Homo sapiens: one gene and its partners. The protein of the gene in region 4 purifies or fractionates together with the protein of the main gene of each other region. This does not show direct contact. Each region holds a gene or a part of one and is shown on either strand. Other genes may lie near its edges.

Region 1 (3,500 bases), on a different chromosome or scaffold from region 4:
GTTTTTTTGATTGTATGATTCAGTGTTTGAAGTTTTAAAGGAGAGTATTTTGAGCCTTCCTGCTCCTGAGGACAGCTTTACCCCATCAGCGGATCTATTACATGAATTCACTCCATCACTTACTCACTAACTCACTTACCTATTCCTTCATTCACTCAATTGCTCAATTACTTACTAAATCAGTTATTCTCTCAGCCATTCATTTATTCACCCACTCTCCTACTAACCCACCTACTCATCCATTCATCTGTTCACTCTTTCAGCAAAGATTTATTAAGCACCTACTGCAAGCACTGGTGGGGTTAGGGAAACATCTTAAAATATACCGTTTGAATGACCTCAAGTTTATGAGGCTCTCCTGACACTACTGTTTTTTATTTAGCTTATTGTATTAGTTAATTGGTCAGGTTGTGGCTAATGAATACACTCTTTTGTGAATATGTTACAATTTATGTAATAGTTTAAGAGCTATTAGCATTATTTCTTAATGAACACAAAACTAAAACTTCTGTAATAAACTATAGTCTGATACTTGCTATCAAAATAACTGTCATATTGCAAAGGTTGTATTACATCTAATTATACCTTTGAATTAATTCAAATTAATTTTTCAGTTGTTGGAATTAAAATTGATGTAAATTCCTGGATAGAGAATTTCACCAAAACCTCAATCAGAGATCCGGTAAGATATTTTTAAAAAATTCTTATGCTATGTTTAATGTTTTCAAAATTCAATAGAAAAAAATATAAGGTCCTTATACAGTGGCAAATACATTCTCAATACCACTACACTGAAGTAGAATTCTGAATTCCTATTTTTTCAAAGCTTTTTTTGTTTAAATTAGTCAATATGTAATAGAAGTATTTCAAGGTTATAACATGCAATGCTAGTTTATATATTGATTGACATTGTCTAATAAGATAAAACTTTTGTTTCTTATAGACTAGACTGTTTAATCTTATTTTTCTACTGGATAAATTATTTCAGAATTTCTAATTATAACATGGTAATAATATAATTAAAATCCAACTTTTAAAAGTGAGGTGATAATCGCATTTTTGTCTTTCAGTGTGCTGGTCCAGTTTGTGACTGCAAAAGAAACAGTGACGTAAGAAAACTATTTAAAATCACTTTTGAGTACAATATTTCCTTGTGTTACTCTTGCTAAGACTATAGTGATGAAAAAATATGCAGGAATTTTTTAATCAAAGGCTAAAAAATTCTATGGAAATGTGAAATAATATATTCATTTGAATTTGTATGCTTTTGATTTTGAATGTAAAGTGCTTGAATTTTTAAAAATATGTATGTATCCTTGGAAGGTAAAAAAATGGTCATGTCAATATGATGGTTCTCTTCGGTCTCAACTGTGTTACATTCTTTTGTACATATTTATCTTTAGCTCTATTTCTGGATAGGAAGTTTCTAACCAAAGCAACCCTATTGGTTATCAATGCAGTTTTCTCTCACCTATCACACTTTCTCTAAATTTGTTCACACTGTATTATATAGTTACAGGAAAAATGTTTTAACTAAACCTGGAAGTATTACAGTTTATTATAAAGTTATAGTTACATGGATTGAGTTTTAAGGTGTCTTGTATTACTTTCACTTCTGTTTGAGAAATTGAAAAAGGAAATGTGAACTTTGTTCAAAAGTTGAAGATGCTCTAAGAATGATACTAGATAAATAATTCTAAAAATTGAATAACAATGATGAAACAATATTTTCTTCCAGTCCTCTTTTGTGTGTCTGTATATCTCCAAGGGAAGCAGGGGGTTCATATCGTCTTTATCACTCCTACTCCTGTGAAATTATGAGCCAATAATTTTAATGATTTTTGTAACTTATCTATTTCACATAGACTATGCAGTAGCTGTTTTAAGAGCAAATATTTTAGTAATAAACTGCTTCCACATTAGGAAAATGCAATGCATTACATCCTCAACTTTGAAAACCATGTTTTTATTTGTGATTTTTATTCAATACAAATTATTATATTGATTTTCATACATTAAAACATGATTTAAACTAGGTGGGAATTTATCCTGTGTTTCAGGGTGAAGTAAGTATTAACCATGGACATTTTTTGTTTTGCGTTTTGCTTTTAAATCTCCAATTATCCAACTACATATTTTTAATCTAAAATATGAAATAATTATAAATAGTCTTATAGTACTGATGTGTTTTAAGTCTGTGAAACAGGACAACTAAAATGATATTTTTTTAAAATATCTTTTTGTCAAAATCCTAAGTATGTGTTTAAATCAGTTACTCATTATTAAATAATTTTCTCTATCCAGTTTTCTGGATCATTTAGATGACCCGGAAATGGTAAAAAGATTATTTCTAATTTGCTCTTCTGATTTGTTCAGACTGAATTGACAGTCTCAAGTGGATGGTTGGTGTTGGATTATCAAGCCTGATGGTTTGATATAAATCTATGCATGCCTTTATTTCACCAGAATTTAATGAACATATATGTTCAAGAGAAGATAGGCATTTAAAATTTTCTATTTTTATTGCTCTAATCATGTATATAATGGGGTAAAGACAATGCAGCCTCCTAACCTTTCTAAAAATGTGTTAACTGTTCACTTTATTTTGATAGGTAATGGATTGTGTGATTCTGGATGATGGTGGGTTTCTTCTGATGGCAAATCATGATGATTATACTAATCAGGTATGTACCTCAAATAAGAGGGAATTAGGCTTTCCAAAGTGTGTTTCCCGGATCAACATTACAAAACCTCTTTCAGTGTTTTAGAAATCGATGAGTTGTTTTATTTCTGTCATACAATAATTTGTAAAATGCTTAATGTTATGTAAACCATTAAGAAATGCATGCTAAGTCTAGTTTTTATGTTATTTGATTTTACATTTTAGTACTGGTATCATTAAAACATACAGTTAAGGATTTTAGCATGACATGAACTTTTAATCTTTCTGATATTTAGAAAACTTTCACTTCAACATTTGTCAGTTGATGGTATCTAATTTAATATATAGCTTGTTAAAACTGATGTGATTTCTAGTCTCAAACCTGCAAATGAGCAGCACATAGGCTATTTTTAACAAATTTGAAGTAGATGCCAACTAATTTCACTTCTGAATCTGCATTCCTGGCTTCTTTCTTTTGAAAAAACAAAGCAAAAATATCTCAACCCTGGGCTTTGTTTGTTTTTTTTCTGGATGACAGGATTTATGGGGTGGAGCTGATTCACTCATGATTGCCCCTTTAGATGGGACTTGTTCCAGTTCATCACAGCCCCTACAAGTTCGTTTTCTAGGCCAGCCTGCTCTCTCATTTATGCCACTTTTCCATTCCCCAGGGGGGCATTTGATCTTTTTTTTATTGTATATGTTTAAGGTGTACAAAAAAAAGCTTTGATTTGCATAGTTAAGTGATTACTGCGTCAAGCCAATTAACATATCCATCATCTCAGGTTGTTAACCTTTTTTGCGGTATGGTAAGAAGACTTAAAATCTACTCTCATCA
Region 2 (3,982 bases), on a different chromosome or scaffold from region 4:
TCTATTCTTACCCCAGTCTACATTTCTTCATAACATCGGTCACCATCTGATCTACATTTACTTATGTATCATCTCTTTACCCCCACTGGAATGTAAGTTCCACGTCCCTAGAGTCTATATTTTGTTTACTGCCTTATCCTTATACCTAAACAAGTGCCTGGCATGACACCACTCAGTAAAACTTGAATAAATGAATAACAAATCTAGGCTCAAAGCTCTTACAGGTGAAAGGGGCTAACCTGGCAGTCACAAAGGAAAAATATCACTGTGACAACCGTCTGAGGAGCACCTTCTCCCCTTAAAATAACTCACTCAAAACAGTGGAGCTGCAAAGGTGACCAGAGAAAATCCATTAACACCTTAGTGCCCATGACACCAGGTGAGTTGATCGGGCTACTTGCGAGAGGGACATGTGAGTGAGCGTGGAGAGCTCTGAGTAGGCTGAAGAGCTGGATGTGGGGGATCTGGGCTGCTGGGAACCCCGAATGTTGGAATCGCCCTGACAACCTTATGAGGGTGGTCAGATATGGGTCCTGAGGAAACTGATTCCACGGCAACTGCCCGCCAACCCAGCACACCCCACAGTGAAGAGGGGCTTCTGATCCATGAGTAGGGCCCCTCAAATGATGTTCCCCTTTAGATGGTCATGGTCATCAGCAGGGGTGGGTGCATCGATCCTGTGGGGTCTTGGTGGTCGCAGACCAAGCGTCCCTCTTCTCACATCTAATTCACAACGTCTCATCGCTCCGCGGGAGCCCAGGAACTGCCCTACAACAGCCGAAATCCGGGTCGTCTATTCCAACGGACTCCTCTTCCGTTGGATACGGGGGCCGTGAGAGGCCAAACAACCTCCGCGAGGCTACCCCCGCAGCGACCGCTCGGCGGGCGCTCCATTCCTTTACCGGACTGTACACCTCGCCTCCTGGGGCCTGAGGCGGGAACCCGGGTCGCGCTGCTCCGAGGCCTCGGCGGACCGCGAAAGGATGGCTCACCACCCGGCCAGGGCCAGCCCCTGCAACAAGCTCAGCCCCGCCCGCTCCCGCGCCCAGGAGCGGCCGGCGGGGCGGGGTGGCTGGGCCGGCCTCGGGGGCGGGGGCTCGGGGGCGGGGGCTCAGGGGCGGGGCCACGTGGCTCCTCCTTGCGGGCGGAGGCAGGCGGTGCCGCGGCGCCGGGACCCGACTCATCCGGTGCTTGCGTGTGGTGGTGAGCGCAGCGCCGAGGATGAGGAGGTGCAACAGCGGCTCCGGGCCGCCGCCGTCGCTGCTGCTGCTGCTGCTGTGGCTGCTCGCGGTTCCCGGCGCTAACGCGGCCCCGCGGTCGGCGCTCTATTCGCCTTCCGACCCGCTGACGCTGCTGCAGGCGGACACGGTGCGCGGCGCGGTGCTGGGCTCCCGCAGCGCCTGGGCCGTGGAGTTCTTCGCCTCCTGGTGCGGCCACTGCATCGCCTTCGCCCCGACGTGGAAGGCGCTGGCCGAAGACGTCAAAGGTGAGAAGCGGGGGCGGCCCGCTCCCCCGTGCCCCGCCGCCCGGACCCCTCCACCTGCCCGGTGGGCAGCCTCCTACTCCGGGAGCGCGTCCCTCTTCCAGTCACCTCCGCCCACCTCTTCCTCTCCGCGCATCCCACGCCCACCACCTTCATGTTTCTCAGCTCCATTTTTGCCTCCCGCTCCCTTGCCTTTTCCTCTTGGCCCTCATCCCGAGCTTCTTTCCCTCTCCGCGGCCTGGGCCCCCAGACCTGCCCTGCTCGCCCGGTTCGTCCCCCGCCAGGTTACTGCCTCCTTCCCTGCGAGAGGTCTCCTTTGTTCCTTCCTCCGCATGGTCCGCTGACACCTTACCGTTTCCTGGGCCAGCCTTGTGGCAGTCCTCTTCCTCTCGTCCAGGGACCCATGTCATCTTCCTGCCAGGTTCCCTAGCTGCTGTGGGTCAGTGCTGGGGAGAAAAGGGAACGGACATCCATTTTGCCTCCCTGCCACCTTTCTCCACTCCCTCGACTGGTTGACCAGGTGGTACATAGACTTCCTTTCTCATTTTTGTCTTTGATGTGGGTATGTCCACCTGGCAGTTTTCCTATCTCTGTTCCGGGCCTCTCCTGACCTGCCGCCTCCAGCTCCTTAGCTTCTGGGCCACATCCTTCTCTCTCTTCCCCCGCTCAGACCCTTATATTTTAAACCCATGCACCCAGAGGCCTTTGGTGCGTGTTTGGCTCTTGCTCCATGTTCCCAATCCCTGGTTGGGGCACCAAAACTATATTTCCTGAATTCCAAGACACCATCAACTGTGAGACACACTGTTCATTTTATGACAGCCCAAGGGGTAGAAGGATAGGAAAAAACCACTACATGTATAAAGATTTGAAGGTGAACTCTATTACAGAAATGCTAAAATTTTGAAACACTTAAGACTTAGAGTCGAGGAAATATGGTAATAATAGTAATTAATATTTACGGAGCACCTATCATTTCAGGCACCTTACTAAGTACTCGGCATACATTGTCTCATAGTTTCCTTTCCACAATTTAAAGATTCCTGTGGTGTCACACATCCACCTAATCCAGGTAGTGGGTATTTGGCGGGCAGGAGTGGTATAGTGATAGTGATTTGTTCCTGACTTGCTGCCTCTGAATGGAGTTACTTCCTGACTCTGGTGCTAGGTCGCTAGCACGGCCTCCTACCCTGAAATGGTCATTGAATGAGAACTGTGGGCATCTTTGGAAATAGGCCTTTTTCTAGAGAAAGGGGAACTGGAACCATTGTTCCACTGTTGGTATTTCTTGATAAATTCAACTCTTTGTGGTAGAACAGTGCCTTTGTAGATGTTAGTTTTCAGACTCACCCTCCTCTTTTCCTGAGCAGCTTGCAGATTGGTTTCTGAAGAGGCGAGATGGAACCATGTGTACATCTTTTAGCCATATGGTCCTGGAAAATTATTTTTAAATGAAACTTATAAGCTGTTTTGACCTCCAGTTTACACTTGCCTACATGCCTCACTGGTCCCATTAGCTGAACGTGCCTTTCTGAGCAGTGCTTCACACCATTTCAACACATTTGGTCAGGGGAGGAGTGATGTCAACACATCTGGTCAGGGGAGGAGGGAGGAAGAACATGGATCATGGAACTGGAACACCTAAGATAAGGTAATCTCAGGGGACATTGTGGGCATGAACATCATAAAAATTCCCAGATCGCTTTCCACTTTGAGGTTATAAGAGGTGTTCAGTGGCTGCAGATGGACTTATTCTAGAATTTCTTCCTTCTTGAGAGTGCTGGGGGGAAAGATTAGCTTCCAGCTGACTCACATGTTTGGCCTCTTGCAATGCAGAGTTTTTAGTTTTCCTATGAGTTGCATGTCTAGATACTGACCCATTCTGCTCCTGGATGAGGGTTACCACTTCCAAACAGGATTCCCCAGTGCATGGAGCCTTTCTCTAAAATAAGAAAGCGAAATCAGAATTTAACCTCTGAAAAGGAAATGGAAGGATCAAAGTCTGTGGGGGTGAGCCAGGGTAAATGGGAGGTGGGAGATTTCAGTGGAAACTGGAGGTCTCCTGTGAGCCATTGGTGTGAGTCAGTCCTTGAGCCAGATCGTGTTGGGAGGGCACTGGCAGAATCTGCTGTCAGCCTGCAATGAAGAATGTCCTCCACTCTAACCCAAAGGGGTGTTCCCTGGTGAGGCCCTGCTGAGAAGCTAGGGTTGGTCTCGCTTCATCTCTGTGTCCTGAGGTTTCTTGAGAAAGGTTGGTTGTGGGCCCGCAGAGGGCTGTGCTCATCCCACCCTGGGCTGTGTGAGTACTGCCCATGCTCTCTGCTGAGGACACCTGTATCTTGAGGCAGGAACAGAGACAGAGTGAAGGTCACAGGGAGAGAGAAGAATTTTGCAGCCATATTTGGCTGGCTTCAGGCATTTAATCTGACTGAATAGGGTTCATTTCTTCAGTGACTAGGGCAGTAGATTCTCTAGGCACCTGCTGCCCCGGGGCAGAGC
Region 3 (3,500 bases), on a different chromosome or scaffold from region 4:
TGTCCTCGCCTGACTCCCCTGCCTCAGTGGCAGCAGCCCCCAGCCCAGGACCTGCACAGAGGAGGCGTCTGTCAGCGACCCAACCTGAGCCCCAGAGAGGAGCACTGGGTACCACACAGCCCCAAGGCAAGTTACTGGCTGGGCTGGGGCTGGGGCTTCTGCCTCCTACCAAGGCTCCATCAGCCTCTACCTGCCATCTGCTATGTCTACTTCATCACCTCTCCTGGTGAATTCAGACTTCTCTCCATGCACTGGCCCCAGCTTTATGGTTTTTCCTGGTGTCCAGCCTCTGTCCCTCCAGCAGCAGCTTAAGGAAGGCGCATTCACTGAGCACCTCCTGTGTGTGCCAGGCACTGCGTTCACCATAACAGCAGTAACCATCCTTTATTGGGTGCTGACCACATGTGTCAGGCACCTTTCACTCAGAATTTCACAGTCATTTCACTCCTCACAATAATCCTGTTCCCATATCATGCTCACTTTTTAAAATGATATCACTGAGATTTAGTAAGCATTTTCTTCTGGCCAGCCGTTGTACTAAGCATTTCACTTGCATTTCCTCACTGATCTTCCCCAACCCCCTTCCAGGTAGGTACTCACTATCCCTATTTCACAGCTCTGGAAAGGTCCCTGGAGAGGATGTGGAAAGATCCCCAGTAGGTAGCAGAGCCAGGATTCGACTGAAGACCGTGATTCAAGTGAGGCTCTTAACCCTGGGCCAGCTGTCTGCCATTTGGACTGCAAAACCCAGAGGCCAGATACCCCTAAGAGGCCAGCTGTTGCACCTCTGCAAGGCGGGGTTCCACCTCCTCTCGGGTCCCGGCACCTAGGCCAGACTCATCGAATGAATGAAAGACTCTGTTGTATCCCCTGTACCCACCATGGCTATCACAAGCCACAGTCCCATGAAGACAGAGAACCCAAGGCCACTTTCTCAGAGGAGGACGGTGATCTGTCTCTGGGCCTCTAGGGTGGGATTCATCCTTCTCAGTCAGATTTCAGGAGCGATGGTGGTTGCGTTTTTGGGTGTCAGTGCTATTGCTATAACTTAATGATGCAAGGTAGGGAAGTCCCACAGACACTGAACATGCAGTGATGCTGCTGAGTGTGTTGATTAGCACCAAAGCAACTGTGGAACTCAGAGATAATAACATTTTTAATTGTATTAGGGTTTGGGGAATCAGTTTTATTGCAAGTCGTTTCCATTAATAGGTATTGTGATGAGATGCTCCTGGAAACCATCCTTAACTCACTGTGTGCAGGGCCACCTCCCACGATGGCCACAAGGGGGAGCTGCGCGCCGGGGGCAGCCGGGAGAAGGGGCCTGAGTGCCGAGGGCGGGGTTCTCAGGGGTTCGGAGGCGCAGCTGGGCCTCCCAGAGACTGCGCAGCCTCTCTGACACCAGCGTGCTGTCTGTCCGAGAAAGCGCACACCCCCTTACCCCCTGAGATGGGCAGAAGGTGTTCGTTTCTGGTTCTGCCCCTTCAAAGCTCCGTGACCCAGCCAGCTGTTCCTCTCCCCGAACCTCGCTTCCCGTGTGTGAGATGAGGATGCTCGTGCCTCCGCGGAACCAACCTGGGGACCACGCGAAGCGCCCCCACAGGCCCAGGCACGCCCATGCCTCTTCCCGCCCCGAGCCCCCATGTCACAGCCCTTCCAGCTCCTCACCTGCCTCGCTCAGGTCTCTTGGGGGAACATTTGTTTCCAGGCTGATGGGCTGGAATGAAAAGCCTCCAAAGGGAAACTTCATCCCAGGCGAGACTCAGCATTCCCCGCCGGCGAGTGAAGGTCCCTGGGTAGGGAGCGGAGATGCTGGCCACCGCCCCACCCTCATCGTCTAGAAATGCCACTGTCCCTGCTCGGCATCAGAGGGCCCTGGCCGCTGCTGCCTCTGGGAAAGGTTGCCTCGGGAGAAAGGGGGTGAAGGCCCTGCCAGCAGCTAGAACGGCTCCAGGGAGGCAGGGCGGCCGGCAGTGCTGTGGGAGAAGGACAGGCCTTTGGAGGGAGATGGGAGACGAGTCTGGAGAAACTAGGGGGACGGAGGTGGCGGCTTTGACTGACCCTTCCAGAGACTGGGATCTGCGGGAGGCTTTGGAGGAGAGCCACAACCTGGGCTTCGGGGAGGCACGCCTGGGGGTGTGGAGGGGGGTGGGTGGAGTGAGATCCACGGCTAGGGGCGAGGGGCTGGGGGCCGAGGAGCCGAAAACCTCTGCCGAGCTTCACGTGGTTAAAGATTTCAGGTCTTACCTGTCACCAGAGATCTCTGTCCCGTAGAGGTGCCACCTCATCCTCCATGAGAGCTGTGCTTTGCTTTCTTCTGGAGGCTGCAAGGAGGATGGCCCCCATCACGGCGGACCTAGATGCTGGGAGTCCGGGAGAGGGCAGGCCGTGGAGATGGGGCAGGTGGCGATGTGTTTCACCACCCACTCCCGCCTGAAGTGCCACTGTGAGCCCAGCCCAGGGTGCCAGGCTGGGCTGCACTCCAGGCTCCTGCAGCAGACCCAGTTCCTCAGCCTCCTTCCCCTGAGGCCTGGGCATGGCCTGGACAAGTGGGTTTCCTCCTCTGCTGTGCCATGCTGAGGTGGCAGGGAGGCTGGGCGGGACCTTGGATGTGACTAACCTGCCAGGCCCAGGGAGGTCCCCCTTACTGAATGTCCTCCCTCCTCACAGTTCCCTCCTCCTCCTGTCCCCATCCTCCCTTCCATTTCTCGCTGTCCCTTCCTCGCTGGGTCTGCCGGCCTCCTGCTGCCTCCTCCTGCCTCAGTCTCTCCCTGCCGTGTCTATCTGCCGGCCTCTAGTTTCCTGGCAGCCCATGCCTGTCTCTTTCCTCCCTCCCCTCTGCCCTGCTCCATCGGCCTCTCCTGCCCTCTCTGTCTCTCCCTCTGGCTCCTCTCTCAGACACACTGGGAACCCTCCCACCCGCTCTGAGCCTCTGTCCGGTGACTCTTCCCCCTCCAGATCGGGCTGGTGGTCATCCTGGCTTCCACGGTGGTGGCCATGTCGGCCGTGGCCCAGCTGTGGGAGGACGAGTGGGAGGTGCTGCTGATCTCCCTGCAGGTGAGTGAGGAGGGTCCCCCAGGACCCTCACAACAAGAGCCTTTCTGTCACTTCCCTTTCTCCAGACCAAGGCCCAAAGAAGGGCAGGGAGGCGCCCAGGGTCACAGAGCAGGTCAGAACTAGGGAGGACACCAGGGTCCTGAGGCTCCCAGTGTCCCCAGTTGGCAGATGGAGACAGGGTTGCCTGCCTCATAGGTAGAAGTAGGAGGCTGGTGACACAGGGTCTGGGCAGAGCTGGGCGTTACTGGTCTCCCTTCCCTCTCCCTGCAAACAGGGCACAGCGCCATTCCTGCATGTGGGGGCTGTGGCAGCAGTCACCATGCTCTCCTGGATCGTGGCAGGACAGTTCGCCCGCGCAGAGCGGACCTGTGAGTAGAACTGTGAAGGGCCTGCCCCTCCAATCCCTGCAGGTGCCAAGACCAGCTGGTGCTGCCCCGACCTGG
Region 4 (4,300 bases):
TAGCTAGATAGGAGGAATAGGTTCTAGTGTAGTATGGCCATAGTTAACAATAATATATAGCTTCAAAGAGCTAGAAGGAGGATATTGAATGTTTCCAACATAAGCATCAATATTTGAGATTATAGATATGCTAATTACAGTGTTCTGATCACTATACATTGTATATTGAAACATCAATATGTACCCCATGAATATGTACAATTATTACATGAATATGTATCAAAACAAATTAAATTTAAAGACAAAACAAAGAACATAAAACATCTTCTTAATAATGTTTTATATTATGTGTTGAAATGATAACATCTTGTATATATTGGGTAAAGTAAAATATATCATTAAGATAAATTTTACCTCTTTGTACTTTTTTCTTAATGTGGCTACTAGAAAATTTTAAATTATAGCCAGGTGTAGTGATGTGCACCTGTAATCTCAGCTACTCAGGAGGCTGAGACGGGAGGATCGCCTGAACCTTGAAGTTCACGGCTGCAGTGAGCTGTGATCACGCCACTGCACTCCAGCCTGAGTAACAGAGCAAGACCCTGTCTCTTTAAAAAAAAAAAAAAGTAAAATTGGCCGGATGAGGTGGCTCACGCCTGTAATCCCAGCACTTTGGGAGGCTGAGGCGGCGGATCACCTGAGGTCAGGTGTTTGAGACCAGCCTGGCCAACATGGCGAAACCCCATCTCTACTAAAAATACAAAAATTAGCTGGGTGTAGTGGTGGGCGCCTGTAATCCCAGCTACTCGGGAGGCTGAGGCAGGAGAATCATTTGAACCGGGGAGGCGGAGGTTGCAGTGAGCCGAGATCTCATCACTGCACTCTAGCCTGGGAGACAGAGGGAGACTCCGTCTCAAAAAAAAAAAAAAGTAAAATTACAGGGTGGCTTGCATTTTATTTCTGTTGGAGAGCACCACTTTAGAAAGAGACAGTGAGCAGGGAGATCCTTATATCCTTATAGGAAATAGGAAGAGGAGCCATTGCAGAAATAAATTCTGTGATCCCAGACAAAGTGCTGGCACCATCTCCCGGGTTTGAGAACACACCGCAGAGATACAGAACAGCGCAGATTGCTGTTGAGGTCAGCTCCCAGCTCCCTGCCTCATTCCTCTCTGATTCCTCTTTTGTTCAGGCACAAAAACACTCCATCCTGAAACTTTTGTCATTATTGCCTTGGTAGAAGAAGACCACAGTTGTTACCTGGGTTTTGATTTGGGGACAACAGCATTTCAATGACTAGGAGATTTCAGGAGAAGCTAGTGGCCATGAAGATTCTCAAAATCAGCATGAACTTTATTTTTCACTGGTGTTCTTTCAAAGTTTGCCTTCGACTCAACGTGTGGTAGAAATTCACCCTGAAAGCATTTGCTCTTCTCTGGTTTTGTGTCTTTTCCTCCAGAACAGCGTTGTTTTTTGCATGTTTTGCACTTAGCCAGAGGAAGTCTGGCGCATCCGAGCCGGCCAGCCGAGCACATCTGGAAGTGGTTTCTGGGGCCGCCCCTCTCTGCCAGCGCAACTCCTGGGTTCCCAGCGGCTTCGCGCAGAGGTGGAAGAAACCCGAGACGTTCCGAAGTCAACGCAAGCAAAGGGGAGTGCGGGTCGGGGAGGAATATTCTTTTGGAAACGTAATATTGGCCTTGGGGCTCTCCAGCCCTTTGGGACTTCCAATGGGATCTTAGAAGCAGCCGAAGCAGCGTGAGGGCGGCAGCCCAGGGCCAGCCACGATTTGAACGCTCTGCCTTGCAGCTCTTCTGGACCGAGGAGCCCAAAGCCCTACCCTCACCATTCACCAGGTAAATAGAGAAATTTACGAGCAGTGTGCAGTCGTTCCGTTTTATCCTGGCCGGTCTGCAGCAGTTCTTTATTCTGCTACAGACCCAAGAAAGTAAATCAGAGGTGTCAGATTGCCCCACACAAACTTTGCCTTCAGAAACTTCCCAGTCCGAACTGGTAGCATTCCAGCGGAACCCTTTTCGGCCATTTCCAGCAAATCCAGTGTGCAATGTTTTTCACATCCTGGGCTGCTTTTCCAGACCTGGGTTTCTCCTCCTTCTCTCCACAAATATGATAATTTACTATTTGTATCAGATTTTAAACATAAAAATCAGCAGTTAGGATGTGGATGAATGCTATTATTTAATGAAGGTATGTCCTGAGCCACAAATTATTTAACTGAGCATGATTCATGTTTTCAGAATCTGCCTTAGGAAGCTGTTCTGAGGATCTCCATCCCCCCAGAAAGAACTGGCCGTTGTGGAAACCCAAGTGAGGCTTATTGTAAATACAGTAGTCGTGGTGTTTGGGTTGAAAATGCTTTTTAAACATTAAAAAAGATCTTATGTTTACTTTATAAGCAAGTGTCACACATTGGACAAGCCTGGTATATAATTTATGAAATAAGAAGGATAGTTAACATGAGAGTAAAAAAAAAAAAACCTGAGAGAGAGTGAGAGAAAGAAAACATGATGATATCTGAATGTCTGGATGTGCTTTGAAAAAAAAAATCAGTCCTCTCGTTGTTTGGCCCCTGTGCAGCCAAATATCCAAAGTGATATTGGTTGGTTTTTGTCTTTTCCTTTTCCTCCAAATGTTCTGGTGTGGCACTTCTGTGTAATATCCTTTCTATATTACATAATGGAATTCCAGTTCTCCCTTTAATGCACTTGGAAGTAGACTGTGCAATGCAGTGGTAAGAACATAGGCTCTGGGGTCAGGCTTACAGGACTGAATCTACATGCTGCCACTTACACACCTTCTAAGCTCGACTCCGGGTGAATTGTTTAACTGCATGCACCCTAGTTCCTCATCTGTAAAATGGAAATTACATGACCTAATGTCTATAGAGGACATAATACAGGACCTGCAAAGTAGTTAGGCCTCAGGAAAGGTTAGCTTCTCTGATGGTGCTGATGATGGCAGTGGTGACAAAAGTGATCATGCATCCTGTTTTTGGCAACACCTCTGCTTTTGACCATGGTTCCCTCTGACAGTCCAGTGGTCCAAGTGTTCCTCATACCCTAATATGTCATCTCTCCAGCACTTTGCTTTCTTCCTTTCTTCCTTCAGACACCTCTCTTTCTTTTATTTCCCATTCTGTCTTTCATTATTTCTTCTTTGTGCTTCCTCTTTCCTTGCTGAGAAAATGTGAGGTTCATTAAGGCACAGCCCTCATAGTTTTCATTTCTAGTTCCCGAGGAAAATGATTCTAAATCCTTTTTAATTTCAGCATTTTCCAAAGAAAGTTCTGAGAAAACATAGTCCCATGGGAAACTCTGTGAACTATATTACCCTCTTAGAGATCGCAAGGCATAATAGCATTTTAAAGGTCCTGAGAAGTCCTGTAGTAGAGAAATCCTCTTAAGGTTGTTTAACGCAATGATTCCCAAACAGTTGATCGCTGAACCACCTTATCACATAATGTAGGTTAACATTTCTAGGAGCACACTCTGCGGTGTGCTATTCTGGACACACTTGTTTTCATTTTGGTTCCTCTTTTGGACATCCTATTCTCCACCTTCCCTGGAGCTCATCCAAGGGGATGCCTTGTTTTTCCTTCTCAAGTTAAGGACATAAGATTATCATGTGTGTTGTACTGGTATATAGAAAATCTGGCCTAAATTGGAGATCAGAAGTCAGCAAACTTTTTCTGCAACGGGCCTGATAATAAGCCATATGGTTTCTGTTGCAACTGTTCAACTCTGCTGTTGCAGTATTAAAACAGCAGAGAAACAAAAAATAAGCATGGCTACGTTCTAACAAAACTTTATTTACAAAAACTAGTGTCAGGCAGGATTTGACCAGGGGTCATAGTTTGCTGACCCCTACTCTAAAGGCTTTTTGTGAAAGAATTTCTCATGCTAGCACAGGAGAAAGCAAGACAAATTCTCTATAAACTGAAGACTCTCTTGTCCTGCACCCCTAGTGCTATGGTCTGAAGGTTTGTGTCCCCCCAAAATTCATATGTTGAAACTCTAACCCCCAAGGTGATGCTACTAGAAAGTGGGGCCTTTTGGGAGGTGGTTGGGTCATGAGGGCAGCACCATCACCAATGGGATTAGTGCCCTTGTAAAATAGGCCTAAGAGGCTGGGCACAGCGGCTCACACCTGTAATCCCAGCACTTTGGGAGGCTGAGGCAGGTGGATCACTTGAGGTCGGGAGTTTGAGACCAGACTGACCAACATGGAGAAACCCCGTCCCTACTGAAAATACAAAAAATTAGCCAGGCGTGGTGGTGCATGCCTGTAATCCCAGCTATTTGGAAGGCTGAGATAGGAGAATCACTTGAACCCAGGAGGTGGA
Region 5 (4,290 bases), on a different chromosome or scaffold from region 4:
GGCAACAAAGTGAGACCGTGTATCTATTATACAAAAATTTTTAAAAATTAGCTAGGCATGGTGGCGCCCACCTGTGGTCCTAGCTACATGGGACACTGAGGTGGGAGGATCAATTTGAGCCCAAGAATTTGAGGCTGCAGTGAGCTATGATTGCGCCACCACACTCCAGCCTGGGCAACAGAGCGTGACTCTGTCTCTCCAAAAGAAAAAAGTAAAGAAATGGTCAGAGAAATGACAGCTGGTCTGGGTGAGTGGCAGGAAAACCAGAGGGCTTTAGACGTGGTCAGAGATGGTAAAAGCTGGCCATGGGGAGACGGGGCAGCCAGGGTGGCAACAATGATCAGAAGTGGTCAGATATGACCAGAGAAGAGAAGGGGTTACAGATGGTCAGGAAGATGAGCAGTGGACAAAGAGAAGGGAGGGCATGGGTTGGGCTCAGATCTGGGGGAGATGACCATGTCAGAGACACGTGGTCAGAAACGGCCCAAAGCCAGCAAGGTGGTCAGAGAGGAGGAAAAGGACAGACATGGCAGAGTCAGTGGGAGCCCAGGACAGCTGCTCAGGAGGATGGTGCGGGGAGAGGTCATCGGAGAGAGGAAAGGCAGCAGAGATGTTCGAGATGATCAGAGGGCATCAGCAAGTGAGAGAGGAGAGGTGGCCAGAGATTATCAGAGGGCATCAGTGAGTGAGAGAGAGAGAAGAGGTGGCCAGAGATGATCAGAGGGCATCAGCGAGCGAGAGAAAAGAGGTGGGCAGAGATGATCAAGAGGGCATCAGTGAGTGAGAAAGAGAGAAGAGGTGGCCAGAGATGATCAAGAGGGCATCAATGAGTGAGAGAGAGAGAAGAGGTGGCCAGAGATGATCAGAGGGCATCAGTGAGTGAGAGAGAGAGGAGAGGTGGCCAGAGATGGTCAGACAGTTGCAGACTGGGAGTTAGGGTCAGGGGTGGGAGGAGGGCAAGAGCAGTGGGAGAGATGGCCAGAGAAAGGGAAAGGTGGCCAGAGGAAGCTAGAGAGGAGAGATGGACAGAGGCTGCTGGAGAGAAGAGTGGTGGACAGCAATGTCAAAGATGGATGGGGACGGTCACAGACCTAGGCTTAGATTCAGGGGTGGAGAAGGAGCAAGAGAGCTGGTGAATGATGATTAGAGAGAGGCACAGTGGACACAGATGTCAGCGATGGTCACTGAGAAGCAGCAGGCAGAGGCGACTGGAGAGAGGACCTGTGGACAGGGGTGTCACAAAGATGATCAGAGAGAGAAAAAGGGAACAGAGATGGCCATTGAGAGGACAGGTGGAGAAAGGAGCCCAGAGAGAGGAGTGGTGGACAAGAGAGGTGGCGGAGACGGTCGGACCGGATAGACAGCGAAAGGCTGTAAGGGTTGCAGGGGTCAGAGACCTGGAGGTCCCATCAACTGAGGCAGGGAAGGTCAGAGAGGGGCAAGGATGGCCAGTGTCCAGAGAGTGTTTGGAGCAGAGCAGGAGCTGAAGGCAGACCCATGGGGGAATGTCTTTTTTTCTGGAGAAACCCCAAGAGTGTCAAAGGGTACCTGGTACCGTAACCCGCAGCCACAATGCTCCTCCCAGCCCGTCCCCACCTTGAGGTTTCAGCAGCCTTACCTGAGCTAGAAGCAGCCCCAGGGAGCAGAGTCCTAGCTCCAGGGGAGTCAGAGGTCAGGGCTCTGGAGGGAGCATCTGGTCATGCTTTTCCTGTCCCCAAGGCTTCTGTAGAGGGACTGTGTCCTGACTCGGCTCAAATCTGTGGCAACGGAGTCTCCAGACCTTAATACTCGGGGTTCCAGACCCCTAAATATTGGGCCTCTAGGGTCCAGTTTTACGGGTCCAGTTTGGGTTGTTCAGGGTCAGGGTCTCCCAGGTCCAGTCTTGGGATGCTAAGCAGCCAAACGGTGGGGTTTAGAGTCTGAGATCCGATCCCGGGGTTCTGCATTCAGATATTGGGGTGCTGAGTCAAGATTGGGAGGTCTCAAGCCCCAGATTTAAGCACTCAGGTCTGCAGCAAGGACTTCAGGCCCAAACTCGGGTTCAGGCCCCTTGGAATCCCACAGTCCAGATCTTGGAATTTGAGGCCTGAATCCCAGGGTTCAGGTCCCCAAGAGTGGGTTCCAGGGTACAGTACTGGAAATCCAGTCCCAGATTTCAAGGTCCCAGGCCCAGAATTCAGAGTTCAGCTCCAGGCTTGAGGTTTTAGATGTCAAATCTTGGGGTTCTGCTCCAAATATTGGGGTCTGTGTTCCAAATTGTGGGGTTCCGGCTCCAAATATTGAGGTCCCAGTGACCGATGTTGAGATTCCAGCCCCATATACTGGGGTTCAGGCTCCAGATCTTGGGGTTCCACGGCCGGATCTCGGGGTGCTGGTCCCAGATCAGGGTTCCAGGCTCGGGTTTCCGGAATTCCCGATTCAATCTGGGGGTGCAGGCCCCCGAGGTGGAGGTTAGGGCGCGGGGTCCGGGGCGGCGGCGTCCCGGCTGGCTTCCTGGGCTGCGGCGGAGGCTGACTGGGAGGGAGGGGACCGGCTGCGGTGGGGAGGGGGGCGACCGGGCAGCCCCAGGGCCGGGTGGGGCGAGGCCTGGGAGCGGAGGGACGGTCAGACAGACTGGGACACGCGGGATGGGGGCACCGCAGCGCAGGCGGGGGCGCAGGGGGGAGGGGCCGCGCTCAGAGACCCCTCCCCCGCCGGGGCCGAGGCGGGGGCCGGGCGGGGGCCGGGCTGGGCGGGCCGGGTCCAGGCGCTCCCGCGGCCTCCTCGCCGGCAACCCAGGGCAGCGCGCGCACCGGCGCTTAAAGGCGCAGGCTCCGCGCGCACCCGCGCTTAAAGGCGTAGGCACCCGCCCCTTCTCTCAAAGACGCGCCCCGGCCCCACCTCCCATGGAGTCGCACTGGCGCTGCTGGGAAAGAGAATCCCTGGATACAGAGAGACTGAGACAGAGAGACAGAGAAGAACGGAGATACAGAAAGGCAGACAAAAAGATGGGCAGGCTTAGATTGATGGATAGAGAGGAGAAAATGGAAAGAGGCAGAGAGACAGATTGAAACACACACATATTCGAGACATGGAAATGCACAGAGACAGCGAGACACAGAGAGTGATGGAGAGACAAGAGATAAGGACAAGTCAGAGAAAGACAGAAACAGAGATAGAGACGTGCGTGCGCGCGCACACACAGACACACACATACACACTCACACGCTCTAAGACGCAGCACCTGGGCTGTGAGAATGGTATGTGTGTATGTGCATTCAGTAACTATTCCTAGCCTTGAGTGTAGCGCTTCATTCCAGAGCCACTGGCCCCCCAAACCTGTCTCTTTCTGCCCCCCTTATCTCAGCACCACCTCCCTGGAATGTCCTTTCCACGGTTGGAGTTTCCTTACCTGGCCATGCCCAGCAATAGGCTTGATCTTTCAGGCCAGAGGGGCTCCTTCCCAAGGCTCCTTTCTCTGCCTGCAAGAGGGAAAACTTGTGCCATCTGGGATTAGGGAAAGACCTCAAGACACACTGACAGCCGGGGGCGGTGGCTCACGCCTGTAATCCCGGCTCGTTGGGAGGCCAAGGCGGGCGGATCTTTTGAGATCAGGCGTTGGAGACCAGCCTGGCCAACATGGAGAAACCCCGTCTCTACTAAAAATACAAAAATTAGCCGGGTGTGGTGGCGGACGCCCGTAATCCCAGCTACTCGGGAGGCTGAGGCAAGAGAATTGCTTGAACCCGGGAGGTGGAGATTGTAGTGATCTGAGATCCAGCCATTGCACTCCAGCCTGGGTGACAGAGTGAGACTCTGTCTTTAAAAGAAAGAAAGAAAGAAAGAAAAGCAGAGAGGGATGCCTTGCCTTGCAGGAGCCAGGCCAGGTGTCCTTGCAGTGCAGCCCACCAGGATCACCCGGGGGCACCATAGATCTCCAGGTCCCAACCTCAGAGTTTCTGGTTCAGTGGGTCTGAGGTGGGACCCAAACATTTGCATTTTTAACGAGTACCCAGGTGATGCTAATGTGACTTTTCAAAGACCATACTTTTTTTTTTGAGACAGGGTCTTGCTTTGTCACCCAGTACATTGGTGCAATCATAATTGACTGCAACCTCAAATTCCTGGGCTCAAGCAATCCTCCCACCTCAGGCTCCAGAGTAACTGAGACTACAGGCATGCATCGCCATATCCAGCTAATTTTTAAAATTTCTTGTAGAGACAGGGTCTCAATATGCTGCCCAGGCTGGTCTTGAACTCTTGGCCTCAGGCAATCCTCCCTCCCAGGCCTCCCAAAGTGTTGTGATTACA
Region 6 (3,500 bases), on a different chromosome or scaffold from region 4:
TTTAGGGACTTGCCAAAGGTCAATTAAGTAGTAACCAGGAGAGGCAGGCCCTGATGCCTGGGTTCCCATGCCGTAATTCAAAAACTGACTTCATATAGAAAGCAAGGAATGACTGTTACTACTTTATGTCCACCCCTTGCTTTGTAGGACCAGCCTCCTTCCCTGTTCACTCATCAGACTTGACAAGTCTTGACTTTTCCTTAACACCGTATCCATCAGCTGAGGGGTCCTGCCAGGGAAGGCAGGCCCAAATGGGAGCTCCGAGTGCCTTGATCAAAGGTAGCATTAACCTCACAAGGAGCAATAATGATTTGGACATGGATGTATTTTTAAAAATTGTTCACACCTCATTGCAGCCCTGCTACTCAGGTACCTATCCATGTGCACACACACATGCGCACACACACACCATCCTAACTTCCAGCTCTCTGGCTCAAACCTAGCACCCAGGTTGATATGCTATTAGGAGTCTGAAGATAATTTTGTTGAATGAGAAATTCTATATAGGAGCAATGTTTCAAAAATGTCCATTCTGGGCTGGGCACGGTAGCTCACGCCTGTAATCCCAGCGCTTTGGGAGGCCGAGGCGGGTGGATCACGAGGTCAAGAGATCAAGACCATCCTGGCCAACATGGTGAAACCCCGTCTTTACTAAAAATACAAAAAAATTAGCTGGGCATGGTGGCACACACCTGTAGTCCCAGCTACTGGGGAGGCTGAGGCAGGAGAATTGCTTGAACCTGGGAGGCAGAGGTTGCAGTGAGCCGAGATCGCACCACTGCACTCCAGCTTGGCAACAGAGCAAGACTCCATCTCAAAAAAAAAAAAAAAAAATGCCCATTCTTTAGCAGTCTGTGTGTAAGCAACAGCTTCACTTTTCAGTGATATTTATTTATCTTTTGAGACAGGGTCTCTCTCTATCATCCAGACTAGAGCGCAGTGGCGTGATCACAGCTCATTGCAGCCTCGACTTCTTGGGCTCAAGCGATCCTCCTACCTCACCCTCTCAAGTAGCTGGGACTACAGATGCGCGCCACTACCCTCAGCTAGTTTAAAAAAAAATTGTAAAGATGGTGGGGGTTGTCTCACTATGTTGCCTAAGCTGGTCTTGAACTCCTGACCTCAAGCGATCTTCCTGCCTCAGCCTCCCAAAGTGCTGGGATTATAGGTGTGAGCTACTGCACCCGGCCTCAGTGATATTTATACATAAGCCTATATAAAATGTTTGTGGCCCAGTTTCCTGATTAAAATAGATTTTCAAAATGATTTGGTGGTGGTTGATCATTTCTTTTCCTGTTTACATGATTTCTTTAGAAAGAAAGCTTCCTGATTGTTAGGGTTCAAATTACAGGGTGTTTGCCTTCTTTCCTAATTTCTTTCAAAGGATGCATATGTCATGTCAAGAGCAAAGATCAAGGTGCCTTAAATGCCTAGCGGGATGAAACTTTGGGACCTACCAAGGGCAGACATTAAAGGGAGACATGCTGAAAAGGACAGGATAGCACATCAGTCTGTCCAGAACAGTGGTGGATAGTGTACAATGATGGATTATTAGATAATTAGATAATGAGCTACAGACAACAAAGCATGTGAAGGCATGTGAGAGGGTGATAAATGGACCCATGTATAATTGAGGACATTTTCCCCTTTCCATAATAACACTCTACATCTGCTTGGCACTTCATAGCTCCAAGTTCTTTCACATAAATTACTGTGGCAAGCAGTTCAGTGCTCATCAACAGCCCTTTATTCCCCATCCTGATCTTGTTCCGGTGGCAGCCTTCTGGTCCCATCTGGCCCAGGGGATGAACCATGACTGGTCTGAGCCAGAGGTTCTCAGCTTTGGCTATACAGTAGGATCATCTGGGGAGCTTTTCAAACATCCCAGTGCCTGAGTCTGGGGACTCCACTCCAGACTACTTAAATCAGAATCTCTGGGGGTGGAGCTCAGGCATTGGCATTAAAAAAATAAATAAAAAAGCTCCTCATGTAAATGTAATGTTCAGCCAGGGCTGAGAACCGCTGGTCTAAGCCAATCACAATGCTCCCATTCCCTTTCACCAATGATTGGGCTAGGGCAGGCTGTATAACCCAGTTTTAGCTAATGAGACATAAAGGGACGTCGGCTGGTAAAGGGGGTTCTGGGAAAGGTGTTATAATTTATTAAGGCTGGGTGCAGTGATTCACATCCATAATCCCAGCACTTTGAGAGGCCGAGGCAGGCAGATAGCTTGAGCTCAGGAGTACGAGACTAACCTGGGCAACACAGTGAGAGCCCCCACTCCCCGCCCATCCCCAATCTTTGCAAAAAAAAAATTTCTTTTAATGAGATTGAGTGGTGGTGTGCACCTGTAGTCCCAGCTACTTGGGAGGCTGAGGTGGGAGGATTGCTTAACCCTGGGAAGTTGAGGCTGCAGTGAGCCATGACATTGCACTCCAGCCTGGGTGAAAGATTGGATGTGGTGGTACGCACCTGTGGGCCCAGATGCTTGGGAGGCTGAGGTGGGAGGATCACTTGAGCCTGGGAGGAGGAAATTGCAGTGAGCCAAGATTACACCACTGTACTCCAGCCTGGGTGACAGAGTAAGAGCTGCCACTCAAAAAAAAAAAAAAAAAAAAAAAAGAGCATGGCAGGAGGAAAAACCCCTCCACCCCTTACTGGCTAGATAGCTTCCTTCCTTTCTGTATTTTAATAACCCTGTGTCGTTGTGTGAAGATGTTTTGCTTGGAGCTGTGGCTACCATCTTGTTACAGTGGGAAGATAAGCCAGTGAATGAAAGCCAAGATGTAAAAGATAGAAAGGGCCTAGGTCCTTGGTGACTTGGTTCAGGGTGCTACGGCCCCTACCCAGACCAGAAAAAACTTCACTGACTCCCTCACTGCCAAATCCTGGCCATTGGGTATGGACCATCCAGAAGTTACTCAGGTTAATTCACATGTGGCCTCTCTCCTCAGTTGAGCTGAGGGCACCCTGAGATGCCCTGTGGGGAGGATGGCTGTAAAGTTGTCGGCTTTCCTGTGTAGGCACTGTCGGCAGCTCAGGGATATTTTATTTGTTCAGTGGTTGGGACATATTAGTAATAAAGCTGAGTGTGTTTTCCACCTCATACTAGCCTAGCTGGAGTATCAGGGTGCTGCCAGGGAATGCCAAGGCAGGGGCCAGGTGAGGTATAAAAGAGAGGATTATGAGCTCTGGAGTCTAACACCAAACACTGTTCCACCCTCACCAGCCCAGGTATGACTTTGGGCAAATTACTTCTCTGAGTCTCGGATTCCTCATCTGGAAAACTGGTATAAATAATGATATATGTACAATGCCTAACTCAGTGCATGACACATAGCCCTTCAGTAAGGATCCCTCCCCCTCTCTTCTCCTCCCTTCTCTAGAATAGAGTGTGACAAACTTTTGGAAAACCCATCAGTGAGTCGGCAGTAACGTTATCTTCCTAGGAACCAAGAATACAAGCACTGTAATCAACCCACTGATTGGTGGTAAGTGC

The links.
Region 1: the proteins of GLT8D2 (region 4) and CACNA2D1 purify together in Homo sapiens (affinity purification with mass spectrometry, with the first as the bait; one large-scale study listed by BioGRID). This does not show direct contact.
Region 2: the proteins of GLT8D2 (region 4) and QSOX1 purify together in Homo sapiens (affinity purification with mass spectrometry; 3 studies listed by BioGRID and IntAct, with this or other methods). This does not show direct contact.
Region 3: the proteins of GLT8D2 (region 4) and GDPD5 purify together in Homo sapiens (co-immunoprecipitation; one large-scale study listed by IntAct). This does not show direct contact.
Region 5: the proteins of GLT8D2 (region 4) and LRFN3 purify together in Homo sapiens (affinity purification with mass spectrometry, with the first as the bait; one large-scale study listed by BioGRID). This does not show direct contact.
Region 6: the proteins of GLT8D2 (region 4) and CHST7 purify together in Homo sapiens (affinity purification with mass spectrometry, with the first as the bait; one large-scale study listed by BioGRID). This does not show direct contact.

Annotation. Positions count from the first base shown.
Region 1 is NC_000007.14:81,964,778-81,968,277, reverse strand, and holds part of CACNA2D1 (voltage-dependent calcium channel subunit alpha-2/delta-1 isoform 1 preproprotein), read left to right. Parts: intron 1-614; coding exon 615-682; intron 683-1,070; coding exon 1,071-1,109; exon of another isoform or gene 1,110-1,113; intron 1,114-2,612; coding exon 2,613-2,684; intron 2,685-3,500. UniProt on the Homo sapiens protein: The alpha-2/delta subunit of voltage-dependent calcium channels regulates calcium current density and activation/inactivation kinetics of the calcium channel. Plays an important role in excitation-contraction coupling.
Region 2 is NC_000001.11:180,153,687-180,157,668, forward strand, and holds the start of QSOX1 (sulfhydryl oxidase 1 isoform a precursor), read left to right. Parts: upstream 1-1,182; 5' UTR 1,183-1,221; coding exon 1,222-1,486; intron 1,487-3,982. UniProt on the Homo sapiens protein: Catalyzes the oxidation of sulfhydryl groups in peptide and protein thiols to disulfides with the reduction of oxygen to hydrogen peroxide. Plays a role in disulfide bond formation in a variety of extracellular proteins.
Region 3 is NC_000011.10:75,449,442-75,452,941, reverse strand, and holds part of GDPD5 (glycerophosphodiester phosphodiesterase domain-containing protein 5), read left to right. Parts: coding exon of another isoform or gene 1-126; intron 127-610; exon of another isoform or gene 611-1,609; intron 1,610-1,708; exon of another isoform or gene 1,709-2,549; intron 2,550-2,958; coding exon 2,959-3,057; intron 3,058-3,331; coding exon 3,332-3,425; intron 3,426-3,500. UniProt on the Homo sapiens protein: Glycerophosphodiester phosphodiesterase that promotes neurite formation and drives spinal motor neuron differentiation.
Region 4 is NC_000012.12:104,047,388-104,051,687, reverse strand, and holds the start of GLT8D2 (glycosyltransferase 8 domain-containing protein 2), read left to right. Parts: upstream 1-1,500; 5' UTR 1,501-1,793; intron 1,794-2,195; exon of another isoform or gene 2,196-2,265; intron 2,266-4,300.
Region 5 is NC_000019.10:35,934,884-35,939,173, reverse strand, and holds the start of LRFN3 (leucine-rich repeat and fibronectin type-III domain-containing protein 3 precursor), read right to left. Parts: upstream 2,801-4,290; 5' UTR 1,619-2,800; intron 1-1,618. UniProt on the Homo sapiens protein: Cell adhesion molecule that mediates homophilic cell-cell adhesion in a Ca(2+)-independent manner. Promotes neurite outgrowth in hippocampal neurons.
Region 6 is NC_000023.11:46,577,393-46,580,892, reverse strand, and holds part of CHST7 (carbohydrate sulfotransferase 7), read right to left. Parts: intron 1-3,500.